Homo sapiens: one gene and its partners. The protein of the gene in region 2 interacts with the protein of the main gene of each other region in a biochemical or structural test. Each region holds a gene or a part of one and is shown on either strand. Other genes may lie near its edges.

The links. The genes of interacting proteins can lie anywhere in the genome.
Region 1: the proteins of RTKN (region 2) and RADIL interact in a test that uses a peptide from one of them, tested with the Homo sapiens proteins (one large-scale study listed by IntAct).
Region 3: the proteins of RTKN (region 2) and DLG5 interact in a test that uses a peptide from one of them, tested with the Homo sapiens proteins (one large-scale study listed by IntAct).
Region 4: the proteins of RTKN (region 2) and ARHGAP21 interact in a test that uses a peptide from one of them, tested with the Homo sapiens proteins (one large-scale study listed by IntAct).

What each region holds. Positions count from the first base shown.
Region 1 is NC_000007.14:4,831,717-4,835,216, forward strand, and holds part of RADIL (ras-associating and dilute domain-containing protein), read right to left. Parts: coding exon 2,891-3,500; intron 463-2,890; coding exon 425-462; intron 1-424. UniProt on the Homo sapiens protein: Downstream effector of Rap required for cell adhesion and migration of neural crest precursors during development.
Region 2 is NC_000002.12:74,428,637-74,431,937, forward strand, and holds part of RTKN (rhotekin), read right to left. Parts: intron 2,042-3,301; coding exon 1,980-2,041; intron 1,883-1,979; coding exon 1,829-1,882; intron 1,734-1,828; coding exon 1,616-1,733; intron 1,402-1,615; coding exon 1,192-1,401; intron 307-1,191; coding exon 212-306; intron 102-211; coding exon 1-101. UniProt on the Homo sapiens protein: Mediates Rho signaling to activate NF-kappa-B and may confer increased resistance to apoptosis to cells in gastric tumorigenesis. May play a novel role in the organization of septin structures.
Region 3 is NC_000010.11:77,794,256-77,797,755, forward strand, and holds part of DLG5 (disks large homolog 5), read right to left. Parts: intron 2,340-3,500; coding exon 2,196-2,339; intron 1,934-2,195; coding exon 1,806-1,933; intron 704-1,805; coding exon 594-703; intron 1-593. UniProt on the Homo sapiens protein: Acts as a regulator of the Hippo signaling pathway.
Region 4 is NC_000010.11:24,583,114-24,585,500, forward strand, and holds the end of ARHGAP21 (rho GTPase-activating protein 21), read right to left. Parts: coding exon 1,299-2,387; 3' UTR 501-1,298; downstream 1-500. UniProt on the Homo sapiens protein: Functions as a GTPase-activating protein (GAP) for RHOA and CDC42. Downstream partner of ARF1 which may control Golgi apparatus structure and function. Also required for CTNNA1 recruitment to adherens junctions.

The DNA of each region.
Region 1 (3,500 bases), on a different chromosome or scaffold from region 2:
TAAAAGTACAAAAAAAAAAAAATTAGCCAGGCATGGTGGTGCACACCTGCAGTCCCAGCTACTCGGGAAGCTGAGGCAAGAGAATCCCTTGAACCTGGGAGGTGTAGGTTGCTGTGAGCAGAGATTGCACCACTGCACTCCAGCCTGGCGATAGAGCAAACAAAACAAAACAAAACAAAAACAAACAAAAAAAGAAGACCTCACCCATCCAGTCTTAAGGGTGCCCTGAAGCAATTTCCCAAAACTCAGAGCTTCCCAGGGTGATGACTAAAGAAGCAAAAAAGGCCGCTGCTTGGATGGAAGGACAAAGCCCAGAGCTGACCCCAAGGCGTGGGGAGACCCCTCGGGACTTGGCTCCCCCGGGAAGTGTGAGCCCCCAGGACCTGCTGCCCAGAGGCGGGCACAATAACCGGGTCATACTCACAGTTGCGCCTGCTTCTCTGCTAGTTCTTTGGTTTTCTCCTACAATTACAAAGCGGGAGAAAAAGCAAGTGAGCAAAACAGGCTAACACAGGGACGCGTTCAAATACACGATACCATCGACAGGAAAACAAGCCATGCTGCCCCAGGCATCCTGTGTGACGCTGACTATTTATTCAAGCTGTGCTGGAAAGGACATTTTCCATGTGACTTCAACATCTTCCCATTCCATTACCGACTATGACCTACAAGTTTGCTACAATAGAGTATCTCACAACTCTCTAGCTTACATAACAACCGGCTATTTAAAAAATAGTAGAGGCTGGGCAAGGTGGCTCACACCTGGAATCCCAGCACTTTGGGAGGCTGAGGCAGGCAGATCACTTAAGGTCAGGAATTCGAGACCAGCCTGGACAACATGGTGAAACCCCATCTCTACTAAAAATACAAAAATTAGCCGGGTGTGGTGGCGCATGCCTATAATCCCAGCTATTTGGGAGGCTGAGGCAGGAGAATCCCTTGAACCTGGGAGGCAGAGGTTGCAGTGAGACGAGATCACGCCACCGCACTACAGCCTGGGTGACAGAGCGAGACTCCGTCTCAGCAAAAAAAAAAAAAAAAAAAAAAGAATTATTCTTGCCTTAGTAGTAAGTTATTATCCGGCTGAATGTAACCGTGATGGCTGAGTGCGCGTAGACTAAGCGTGTATATTTGGTAAGGAATGAGGACGGGGCAGCGGCGACACAGTTGCACATTCTCAGGAAACAAACGCGCAAATGATATTCGCATGGGATCTGGACAGCACCCAGCGGAGGCTTCGGATTCCCACAGTGGGTGCAGGGGGAAGAGGTGGACTCAGGCTCGGTCTCATGTCTATCAGCTCAATCTCTGGACCAGGCAATTCACCTCTGGGAGCCTCTGTTTCAGAGCCTGTAGCATAGGGGCAGGGTGAGCCCTGGTGTGCTGCAGGGAGTGGGCCAGCCACACAGCGAGCCCCAGGTGGCTGGGACACAGGCTGGGACCCGGGTCCCTCAGCAAGTGACTTACGGCCCCCTGGCTTCAGTTTCCCTGGCTGTGACATGGGGTGTGGCATCTACATCGTCAGGGTGGTTGTGATAAAGAAATTAAACAGCGTTTGGTTTGCAAGTAAGTGCCTGGCGCAGAGGAGACTCGGGAAATGACAATGATCGTGCGAAAACCCATGACTTCTGGCCAGCAGGTAACTCTCGGTCACAGTGGCCACGATGTGGACACACACTACAGGGACATCACCTGGCCCTGTGTCCATGACTGCACGGAGGGGACACGGGCACGCTGCAGTGGCACTCCCATCAAATCCCAAGCCGGGAACCCGAGGGGAAGAGGCACGGACACCCAGATTACAACACCCACGGTGCACAGAGACGGCTCCCACTGACATCTGGACAGGGAAGCCTGAGCTGGCTTTTACTTTTTAAAAGTCTCAGACATTTAAAATGTGGATTTCGATATGAGAAAGTGATAAGGTTTCTACACAGTCAAGTGGTTCCCCCTTCCCCTGTCTGCCGGGGATAAGCGGGGCCCAGACTAGCGAGGATCTGAGGGTCTCTGAACGAACTTGAACAACTACGAGTTGTCCTTCGGGTCCCTGGGAGCCAAGTCACTGTGGGGTGGGGCCCAGCGGGGGGCCATGACTGTGTGATGCCTGTTCCAGCACTCATGGGCCCAGGGCGGTCCTGCTCACTGGCGGCCACACTGGATTCCTGGGGACATTGGCAATGCCTGCAGCCATGGGTGTATTGCGTGTGTGTGTGTGGCGGGGCGGCAGAGGGTGACCGGCATCTAGGGGTGGAGGCCGGGGATGCTGCTGAATCCTCTGCAATGCACAGGCCAGCCTCACAGCAAGGAGCTCTCCTGCCACAGTGTCCACAGGGCCGGGGATGAGAGAGGCTGGCCTGGAGGAAAGTTCGTCAACGCACAAAAGGTGACGGGCCCTGCACCTCCAAACTCGGATCAGGGATGGCTCCAGCGGGTATGTGCTCAACCGGCCCCTGGCAGCAAGCACAGGGCGCCGGCACACACAGGGGCTTCTGGGGCTCTTGGGCAGGGGCCTGTGAGAGCTATCAATGTCACCTCGGCCTCGTGGTGCCCAGGCTCAGGGGCAGCTCACTCCTGGCACGTGACAGTGCTGGGCCCAGCTGGACCCCAGGGAGGGTACAAGCCCAGAGCTCAGGAGGTGACCTAGGACCCCACGCAAACCCCACCCTCAGGGGCAAAGGGCTGCAGCTGACACCTTGGGTTCTGGGGCTGCTTCTGGTGGCCTGTGGGGCTGGGGGGCAGCGACAGGCAGGGAAAGGCCGCCCTGCGCTCAGCAGCACAGCACCGTGGGGGTCAGATAGAGGCGCTCCCGCCTCCCAGCCGGGGCCAGCTCCGGGCCCCCTCTTCCCCCAGACCGGCACAGGACCCAGACCGCCCACCCCAGCACACTGACCCAGACAGTCTCGCGGATCAGCCTGGCTATCTTGAGCAGGAGCTGCCCGAATGTGCCCGGCTGGAAGTGGGTGGCCGAGTGCTGGATGCAGAGGCACAGGAGGAAGGCGGGGGTCAGCTTGTGGTCGTCGCCCCCCGGCTCGATCAACGTCATGATCCTCTGCAGCAGCGTGTCCTCCAGGTGGGGCTCAAACTCCAGGAGCAGCTGCTGGCGCCGGGGCAGGGCGGCCTGAGTAGGGGAGGCGGCTCCCCGGGCCCCGAGCGCGGCCCCGCACAGCCGGCAGCTCTGCGGCACAGCCCGGAGGCGCGCCAAGGCCCGGGCGGGCAGGGGCTGGGCCTGCGCGGGGTCCTTGAATAGCAGCAGGTAGTAGAGCCCCAGGGAGAGCAGGTCCCCGTGGTGCAGCACCACGGTCCTGTGCCCCACCTCGGAGAAGTTGACGGAGATGTGCGCCCCGGGGATGGGCTCCAGGACCAGCCTCCCCGCGGCCTGGCCGCTGTCCGGGAGCGGTTGCCGGCGGATGGTGCAGTGTAGAGGCAGGATGTCGGGGGCTGAGAGGCTGATGCTGGGCTTGCTGGAGGGGGTCCGCTGGCCCACCGTGTGCCGGTCCCGG
Region 2 (3,301 bases):
CCTGAGGGTACCACTTGCAGTGGGCTGAGTCATGCAGAGAGGCTGAGCTGCCAGACGGCAACACACGCTACCATAAAGGGGCAGCCAGGCAGGGTTCTCCTCTGGGGGAGGAGGAAGTGCAGGGTGAGGTAGGGGAATGAGAAGGGGACCATCCCACAGCCCCTCTTCTCACCATCACATGTGTATGTCCCCCATGCACACACATACTTACCATGACTGGCAAGGGTGAGGTCATGTGTGCGGAATCCATCTTGCACTGCTGCCAGGGTGAGTGTGGTGTGAGCCAAGAGGTGGTAACGAGGACCACTGAGGGAGATAGGAGAGAGCATCAGCCAAGGGAGGGGCATGTTGGCCAGCAGGAACTCTAAGGGCTGAGCAGATCTGCCCCATTGTTCAGACTGCCCCACAGAAAACTCGCTTGCCTCCCCAGAGGGTTAGGAATGAACATTTACCGAGCTCCAGCTAAGTGTCAGGACGTATGCTTTATATGTTTTATCCCACTGTATTCCTATGACAGCCCTGTGAGGTTGGTGGCATTCTTCAACTAGATGAGGCAGCTTGAGGCTTAGAGAGGTTAAGAAACTTGCCCATAATTTATAGGTGGAAAGTGGGGGAGTTTGAATTTGAACCCATATCTATGTCCAAAATCAGTATTCTGTTCACTACCCAAAGGTTCTCAAACTGCTTCTCAGAGTCTCAGTGGTCCCATGCGGTGTCTCCAGGTGCATTTAGGTACCACCATAGGTCCCAGGGTACTCTGCTCCAACCAAGAAGCTCTGCTCTATCCACATAAAATGTATTTGCTAGGCTGAGTGCTGTGGCTCACGCCTGTAATCCTACCACTTTGGGAGGCCGAGGCGGGAGGATCACTTGAGCCCAGGAGTTCGAGACTAGCCTGGGCAACATAGTGAGACCCTGTCTCTAAAAATAAAATGTATTTGCTGCTGCTAAAAAGGTAAGACCCCAGGGCCTAAGTCTCCCTGCCTTCCCACTGGTCTTCTGGACTGGCTTCAGCCCAGCTCTGGGGCGTGGGCTGGAATGCCTCCCAGCTACGTGGCCACTGCTCATTCATATCTGTCTGCACATCCTGGCAGCAATGCAAAATGGGTTCTGCACACTCAACACAGTTCAAAGGTCACCTGTGGGCAGAATACAGGCAGCTGAGGGTGGTGTCGGTGTGCAAGGCCTTACCCAACAACTGGGGTGGGGAGCAAGATGGGACTGCTCCCTGAACCCCCAGCACTGTCCAGCGATGCCCGGACACGCCTCCCTGAGGAGCGGCCCAGGGAGCTGCTGAGTTTGGTGGCAAGCCTCTTGGGGCCGCCAGTCAGGGCCCCCTCTTCTTCCACACAGGCCCCATACAGCTCTAACCGCAGTTCAAAGTCTGGCCCCGCCTCAGCGCTGGTGGGAGGAAGAAAGGAGGGTGGTCACAGGAAAGTCCAGGGAGGCAGAGGGTAGGGGATGTGGGTGAGGCAAGTGCAGGACAGCTCCACAGAGAAGGCCAGGTGCCCCTCCTCTCCACCCTGCCCCCATCCCAGCTTCCTCCCCTGGAACTCGCTCATCCAGAACTGGAGCAGAGTGGAGGAAGGAGGTAGCCACAGTGTGAGGTACTCACAAGAGCACATTGCTCTGAAAGGAGATGTCTGTGAGGGTCCTGTCCACTAGGATCATCTCTGTGTCCTGGATGTGTTCCCCCAGCTGCAGCAGCAGGAACACAGCCCAGCGGTGCAAGTCTGGGGACAAAGGGCAAAACAAAAAACACGTCCCACGAGAGCCTCCTACTTCAGGGTCATTCCCCTGAATTTGTCCCAGGGTGTGTGGAACTCACCACCTTTGTTCTTGAAATATTCTGTGTCCTTCCACATGAGTGGAATCCGGAGGTCTAAGGGGCAGAGGGGTAAGAATAGATGTTGAGATGGGGCAGGAGGCCGTGTGCTTGGGCAAGGGGTACCAGCAGCTGGGGTAGCTGTGCTTCTTACCAGAGATGCAGACCCGGCCGCGGCAGGGGGAGCGCTCAGCGGGCGGGCCACTGTCAGAAGGCCTGTGGATAAATCACAATGTCCTGGCCTGGCCTCTAGCCACTATTCCCCCTTGCTCTGGTCCCAACGACTCTAGGATCCCCCTGATCCCAGCGCCTCAGCCACCAGGTTCCCAGCCAGGCCGACAGGCAGGGCTGAGGGACTATAAGGGAAAGTTGTTCATTGAACCCAGCAGTTTGCCAGGCTTGGGGACACCAGGGACACTCAAGCCACATTAACTCACACATAAGGCACAAGCTCAGGGCTCCTCTCTCCAAGCAACCTCCCTGACCACCTCTCCAGATCCCTGCCAAGGACAGGTGCAGCCTTGAGGGGACAGGTGCCCACAGAAAGACTTCATTTCCAGGGCTCTCCATTAAACCCCTGGCTTAGAGGGGTCTCCAGTCTTTATTTTTTTTTTTTTTAACAATAGGAAAGCTGCTTATTTCCCACCATCCCATCACTTCTTTGATATAGGAGGGTACTGGGTCAGAAAATAATTTGGCCAACATTTGTTCAAAGGAAAATCACCAATAGGGAAGAGTTACGTTCCATTCACTACAGACCCTTTTCCTTCCCTACCACTCCCCAACTTTGATTTCTCCTTTTTCCTCCTGGCCTGATATGGTGTACCCTACTAGTGCCCCAAGTTCTGCAGCTCCCCCACACCCCACTGCAGGGCCCGACACCCCACCTTCCTTCCCTCCCTGCCCATCATCAGGACTCACCATGTGTCCCTTTCCTGAAGCGACTGCCAGTTCATCTGTACTTACTCATAATGCCACTAAAGTAATTACTGACTTAGTAGAGCCTTAAGCTAAATGATGTGGCACTAATGGCAATGTGTTTAGCTGCCAGGCACTTGGGGTGTACCTCAAATCACCTGTGTGGGCTGTGTGAGGACTTTGGCAGGACAGAGTCTGTCCATGCTGCCTCTCAGAGGCTGTCCCCCCACCAGCTTGCCCTTCCTCTAGCTTCATGGGATAGCCATACAGTGGGTTTTCTGCCTTCTTCTGGTAGCTTCATGGGTGAGCTCCTGGCAACCTCCTCTTGTGTCAGCCTTCATGGCTGGAATGGGCACCATACCTGTGAGGGGCTGGGACTATTTCCCCTAGCAGCCTCAGTGGAGTAAGTAGGCCACTTTCCTAAAAACCAGTTCTCCAAATGACCACTTTATCCAAATTGGCATATTCTTAGAATAATTTGCCAAATATTTTCCCCAATATTTTGGTTTTATCATGGCATCACTTAAGTCATTATAGACTTGTCAGATCAACAGTCTA
Region 3 (3,500 bases), on a different chromosome or scaffold from region 2:
CACAGCAACAGCCTGTAGGCTGTCGGGGGAGCTCTGGGCAGATGGGGGAAGGAGGGCCCCCCAGCACACACACTTGGAACAGATGCACCAGCAGCCCCTAGCGCAGGTCCCAGAAGCTCAGCAGCACAGAAAGGCAAAATGGAGCAGGGCCTTGGTGAGCCCTTGGCCCAACCAGCACAGGAGCCGAAGCTCAGCGAAGGCAACGGCTCCTGAGTCATGAGCCAGCTCGGGGCTGAGTGGGACTGTGCCCAGGCCACTGGCTCCCCTGCTCCTAAGCAGCACGTAGCGAGGAAAGGGGGCTGGGGCAGGAGAGGGGAGCTGTGCAGACCAAGCTGGCCATGCCCAAAAAACAGTGGCAGCACCCAAATGGCGGAGGGGCGCGAGGAAGGGGCTGCGCTTGGCTGACACCACCTCTGAGTAGGGGACAGGGCCGACAGGGAAGGGTCATTTTCTACACGTACTGCCTATTTCAAGACCCATAGGCCCATCTCTCATTCCTCAACCCCCCACCCCAACACACCCTGCTCCCTACTTGGGCTCCCAGCCCCACCTGTGACAAGGCCCCAGCGGAGCCCAGGGGGCCAGTTACCTACTTGATGTGCTTGGCGCTCTTGTAGTGGATGAAGATGACAATGGGGTAGATGTGCATGTGGTGGAGCCGCTCAATAGCGTGCGGAGCAATGTCCAGGAGGCAGTGTCGGTTCTGGGGTGGGGGGTGCAGAGTGAGCCCTGGCGGGCAGTGAGGGGCAGCCAGCCCCCTGTCCTGCCACCAGCAGGACCCACCTCACCTCACAGGGCTCTACCCACAAACAAGGCAGTAAAGCCACACAGTACACCGTGGGGAAACCATACCCACGAAACTCCCAACAAACCCCACTTGCTGTGAGGAAGGCCAAGGCTGGGAGCCAGGGCTTAGGGGGCTAGGGGTGCTGGCCAGCCCAACTCCAAACTTCCTTTCCCGCCTTTGCCCAGATACAGGGACCTTCTGAAAGCCCTGCCCCACCCTGGCCTCTGAAGCCTTATTTTTGCCAGACTGAGCGAATGAAGAGCCAGAGTCTGGTGAGCCTTTGTGTGGCTGAGACTGAAATATGTCTGTCATGTCTGTCGTCCCAGGCATCCAGGTGGAGTGCAGGCCCGTGCACTCCCGACCCCCAGATGCTCCACTGGGGCATTCCCCCAAGTAGAGTTTGCCCACTTTCAGCAGTGAGAAGCCAACACCTTCATCTAACAGAGAAGGGAAGCAAAGCCCAGCGAGCGAGCTGAGCAGCCTGGAGAAATGGAGCCCAAGGAGCGGCTGTGTCCTTGGACTCCGAGTGTTTGCCCCACCAGCACTCCCCACAGACGTCCCCGCCCTCGTGCTGCCTAGGATGTTCGAAGGCACCGAGAGTCATAGCCCTTTTAGGGGCAGGGACCCTGAGGGAAGGCACGTTCCTGTCCCCAGAAGGTGCATGTGAAATTGTTCGGCACATGCATTTGGGGACCCCGTTCCGGAATGCCCTGCGAGAGGCCTTTCCGCAGAGCTCAATACTCTCATCAGAGATGAGACCCCCCGCACCTGCCAGAGAGGAAGATGGGGCGGCACATACACAGGGGAACTCCTCCATCCCCACCAAGGGATGTGCTTGCAGAAACACACAGCAGCCATGAGGGCAAGCCCAGGCACAGGTGAACTCAGACTAACACAACACGGTGGGCTCACTGAAGGTCTGAGCCGCTGGGGCAGAGGATCACGGACCAGGGGCCTAGACCTGTGCACAGGAGGTCTAATACTGGATGCCTAATCCTCAGACTGAAGCCCTGGGTACCTTTTCTGTGATCTCCTTTATTGACGCCACAGTGGTCACATCGAAATGGCCGCTTCTCCGCTTATAGTCGACAAACAGGCAATCTTTGACACCCCGCTCAATGGCCTGCTGGGAGGCCTTCATCACCTCTGCAATGCACAGACACAGGAATCAGGGAGCCCCAGGCCCTGCTGAGCCCCAGCAGAGGGAGCAGGGGAAGAACACTGCTCAGCAGCTGTCAGTAACCCAGTCCTGCCATGCATGAATCTGACCCATGTCAGCAGGCTTCTGGAACACTGTGAAATCTGCCCCCCGGTACTGCCACCCACTGTGCACAGCTGGGCAGGCAGGTGGACAGGGACATAGAGACAAAGAGCCCAGTAGGCACAGAGGGTGCCCCGTGCCCCTTACCAAGGGGACATCTGCAGAACTTGCCAGGAGCCTCATTCACCAGCATCTCCTTCACCACGTCCAGCAAAGGCCCCAGAATCAGGACAGGCCTCAGAGCGGTGCAGTCCACCTTCTGGACCCGCTGATAGGCCAGGCTCACCGAATCTGAGGGAGAGAGAGCAGCAGCGTCACGGACCCAGCTTGGAGTGGAGGACCTGAGTGGGGCTGGGGAACCCCGCTCCCTGACCTCGCCCACTCTGGTTTGCCTGGGACTCCCCCAGCTTCAGCACTGAAAATCTCGTGTCCCAGGCACAACCGGGCATCGTCACCCCTGGAGTCCAGCATGAGCACCCCCCATGCCCTCTGTGAACACCAGAGGCAGCTGGTCTCAACCACTCATCCCAGAGCTTCCTTCTGCTCTGATTTTTCCTCGTGGGTCGACGCCTGCTTCCCCTGCCCCATCTCCATTCTCCTCTGCTCTCTGGCAAGGCAGCCTCTGGGGTTTGGCAGGTAAAGCTCCCACTCCCCAGGAAGGTGTGGTCAGTGTAACCCAGACCTGCCCAGTGACAGGTGAGGCCTCCCCAATCTGCACGGCTAGAACAGGTGAGTGCTGTGAGCCAGCTCTGGCCATGCAGTTGAGGATAACCCTTAAGAAATGGCAGAGGCACAAGATGGAAGGGACCTGGGTCCTGGATGATCCTCAGAACGCAATGCCTCTCCCACATCAACCACAGCTCAGACTTGTACATGACAGAGAAATAAACTGCCCATTATGCTTAAGCCACTGTTATTTGGTTTCAGTTAAAGCAGTCAAACCAATATCCTAGTTGATACATGCAGTAAACCTCCCCTTGCACCAAATGAATAAAGTCCTTGCAGGGAGACACAGTCTAAAACCCAGCAAGATCTTCCTGGCGTCTCCCTGGTATAAGTCACTGTGCTGGAATCTCAGAAACATAATAAAGAATAGAACACAGAGTTCCTGCCATTAAAAAGCACACACTTTAACTAGAGTCACAACAGAGCAACACATGAACAGCAAGAGAGCACGCAAGAGCTGCCTGGCAATTCCAGGAGCGGCGGGCTTCAGTAGACACTGTGGCTGGATGACAGGGTGAAAAGACCACTTGGGCAGGCCCAGGAGGGAAGTGGGATGAGAGTCTCCAGAAAGAGCAGGGCAAGAGGATGAGTATGGAGATGATGGGGAGGGCAGAGCACAAGATGACTGCAGGCTTGGGAGGAAGGGTCCATGAGAGGCTTGGCCTGGAGGGATCTGTACGCATATGCAGAACAAGGAGTGACTGCAGAGCAGGCACAGGGACCAGG
Region 4 (2,387 bases), on a different chromosome or scaffold from region 2:
TAACAGTCTGAGATTTTTTTGTAACCATTACTTCCAACAATAGCTTTGTTCTATTTTGAAACTAGTGTGTGGCAGGCACTGTAAGTGGAACAGTATCTCATTTAAATCTAATCACCCTTATAATAGGTAGTGTTACTGTAACTAACTGTTTATATGAGAAAACAAATTCAGAGAAGTTAAATAATGTGTTCAAGTTCACATACCTAGGTAGAGCTGGACTGACTCCAAACTCATGTTCGTTTCACTCACGAAAAGAACATTAACATAACATACATTACTTTACCTAGAAGAGTTAAACACTATCAGTCAACAAGTGAGGTTAGGCTAATGTAAGCATCTGTAAGAAAGAGTCTCTACCCACCACAGCAAGAAAGAGGAGAAGATGGAATGTATAAATATAGTAGGCACCTTTTTAAAGTCAGGACCAATTAATCATGTAAGGTAGTTATAAATGGATGACATCTAAAAATATATCAGAATAAGTTTCAAGCCATGCAAAATTCACCAAAACAATTTTTATTTCCAGTGTTTAATTGGGTATGCACACAGGCATGACACAGGTTTGGATTCATTAAGTCCTCATGCAGAATTATATTCTTCTCGATAAAGAAGCCAGTTCCATCCAGGATCCACTATCTACACACCTATGTTACAACATTATATCAAATCTGGTATCTGAAGAAAAGATACACATTTAATATGTTCATTTAAGTTACGTATTTTACAGAAAGATTAAAAATTCAAGTCACACAAAACTCAAAAACTGTATTAAAAGTTTGAATATAAAACTCAGATCCACCTGGAATGACTAAAGAATGGAAGTTCTGTATCCACCTGTGTTAAAACTGGTAAATGTAATGATATCTGTTACCAATAAAACGCATTCGTTTATTCAATGTAAGTAAGTTATCTAATTTTAACAATATGGCACCCTAAAAACCAACTGTATTTTTATGATGAGGCACTTTTGTTAGTGATGAAACCAAAAGAACAAATTTGCTGCACACTGATGCCAGCGATTTTCTTCAGTGATTTTGGGTATATGCTATGTAGTAAGTTGCAACAAATACCTTGCTCATTTGTATACAACTATCCGATATATTTTTAAATATATATATATATATATATGTTCTTCTGGCTGTAGTAATGCACTGTAAAGCTATTTCACAGTGCAAAATGATGAAACCAGCCCAAATGAAGGCTGCATAATAACAATTCTGATACAAGAAAATATTGACAGAGTTACTGGAACGTGTAACAGTAGTTTTTTTACTTGCTAGAGTGGACATACCCCCAGTTTAAAGACAGGGATGAAACTCTGCTTTACTGCCTGGGGTTTCAGACAGTTTATGAGGTTGGGCATTCGCTGCAGAACTAGCATTTTTGCTCACGTTCTGGAAGCTTTCTCCGTTTATTTGGTCAGGTGACTGTGGTGGTATGGAAAGAAGGGGCCTGTTTGTTGAAGCCAAGGTGCTGGAAGAACTGCCTGTGTTGCAATGAAGAGACAAAGGTGTGTCGGTCGTGGCTATTTCTCGTGTGCTTGGGTTCTCTGTCTGGGGATCTCCGATTTCTCCTCTGCTAAGGTCAGAGGTACTGGTGCGTAGGCGTTCCCTGGCCAGCCAGTCTGAGATGGAAAGGTCCTGGGCTGAGCATTTTGGTTTTAACCGGTTTACAGCTGAAAGTTCAGATTCTCTCTCCCCGCTCTGCTCATGCACTTTCCAAAAATTCAAAACGCTGATTTCGGTAGCATCTCTGTGCCCTCCTAGTGTATGTCTGCGCCGGATGCTTTTCCTTTTAGCAGTCTCGGCATTCACTTTGTGATTCCCTACTCCAAACATGTCATCCGCAGGGGCTCTGGGTCTCAGTTTTAACCGATCTGCTATTTTCGTTTTCCATGTGGGTTCCTGTTTTTCGGATTCGCCTCTGGTGGGTGTCAGTAAACTCCCAGTTGACTTTCCTTTTTTCATAACATCAAACACTTTAGTTAACGAAGGTGCTTCTTTCTCATTCTTGGCATCTCCTAGACTTCCACTATCTGACTTGAATCTAGCTGATTTTTTCCTGGAAAGAGTATCACATTCGATGAGTTTATGGGAACTGAAGAGCTGTCTCCGGCTATCTAAACTTGATGTTAAACTTCCCTCGGTGCAACTTAATTCACTTCCTTCAGAATTTCTCCGGCTGCTCTTAGTCACTTCTTGCAGTTTTCCTCGGAAAAGCCTCTCTGAAGTCAAGGCTGTGGGGAACACGGGAAACTCGCTCTCGCTGTCGGTTTCCACAGGCCGCCCTTCACTGATGAGTTCGCTTCTCTCGTCATCTGCCTCGTCCCCCTTGCTCTCTGCCACGGATTGCACCTCAGGGCTCAGTCGACTGGAGTCCAGGCTAGT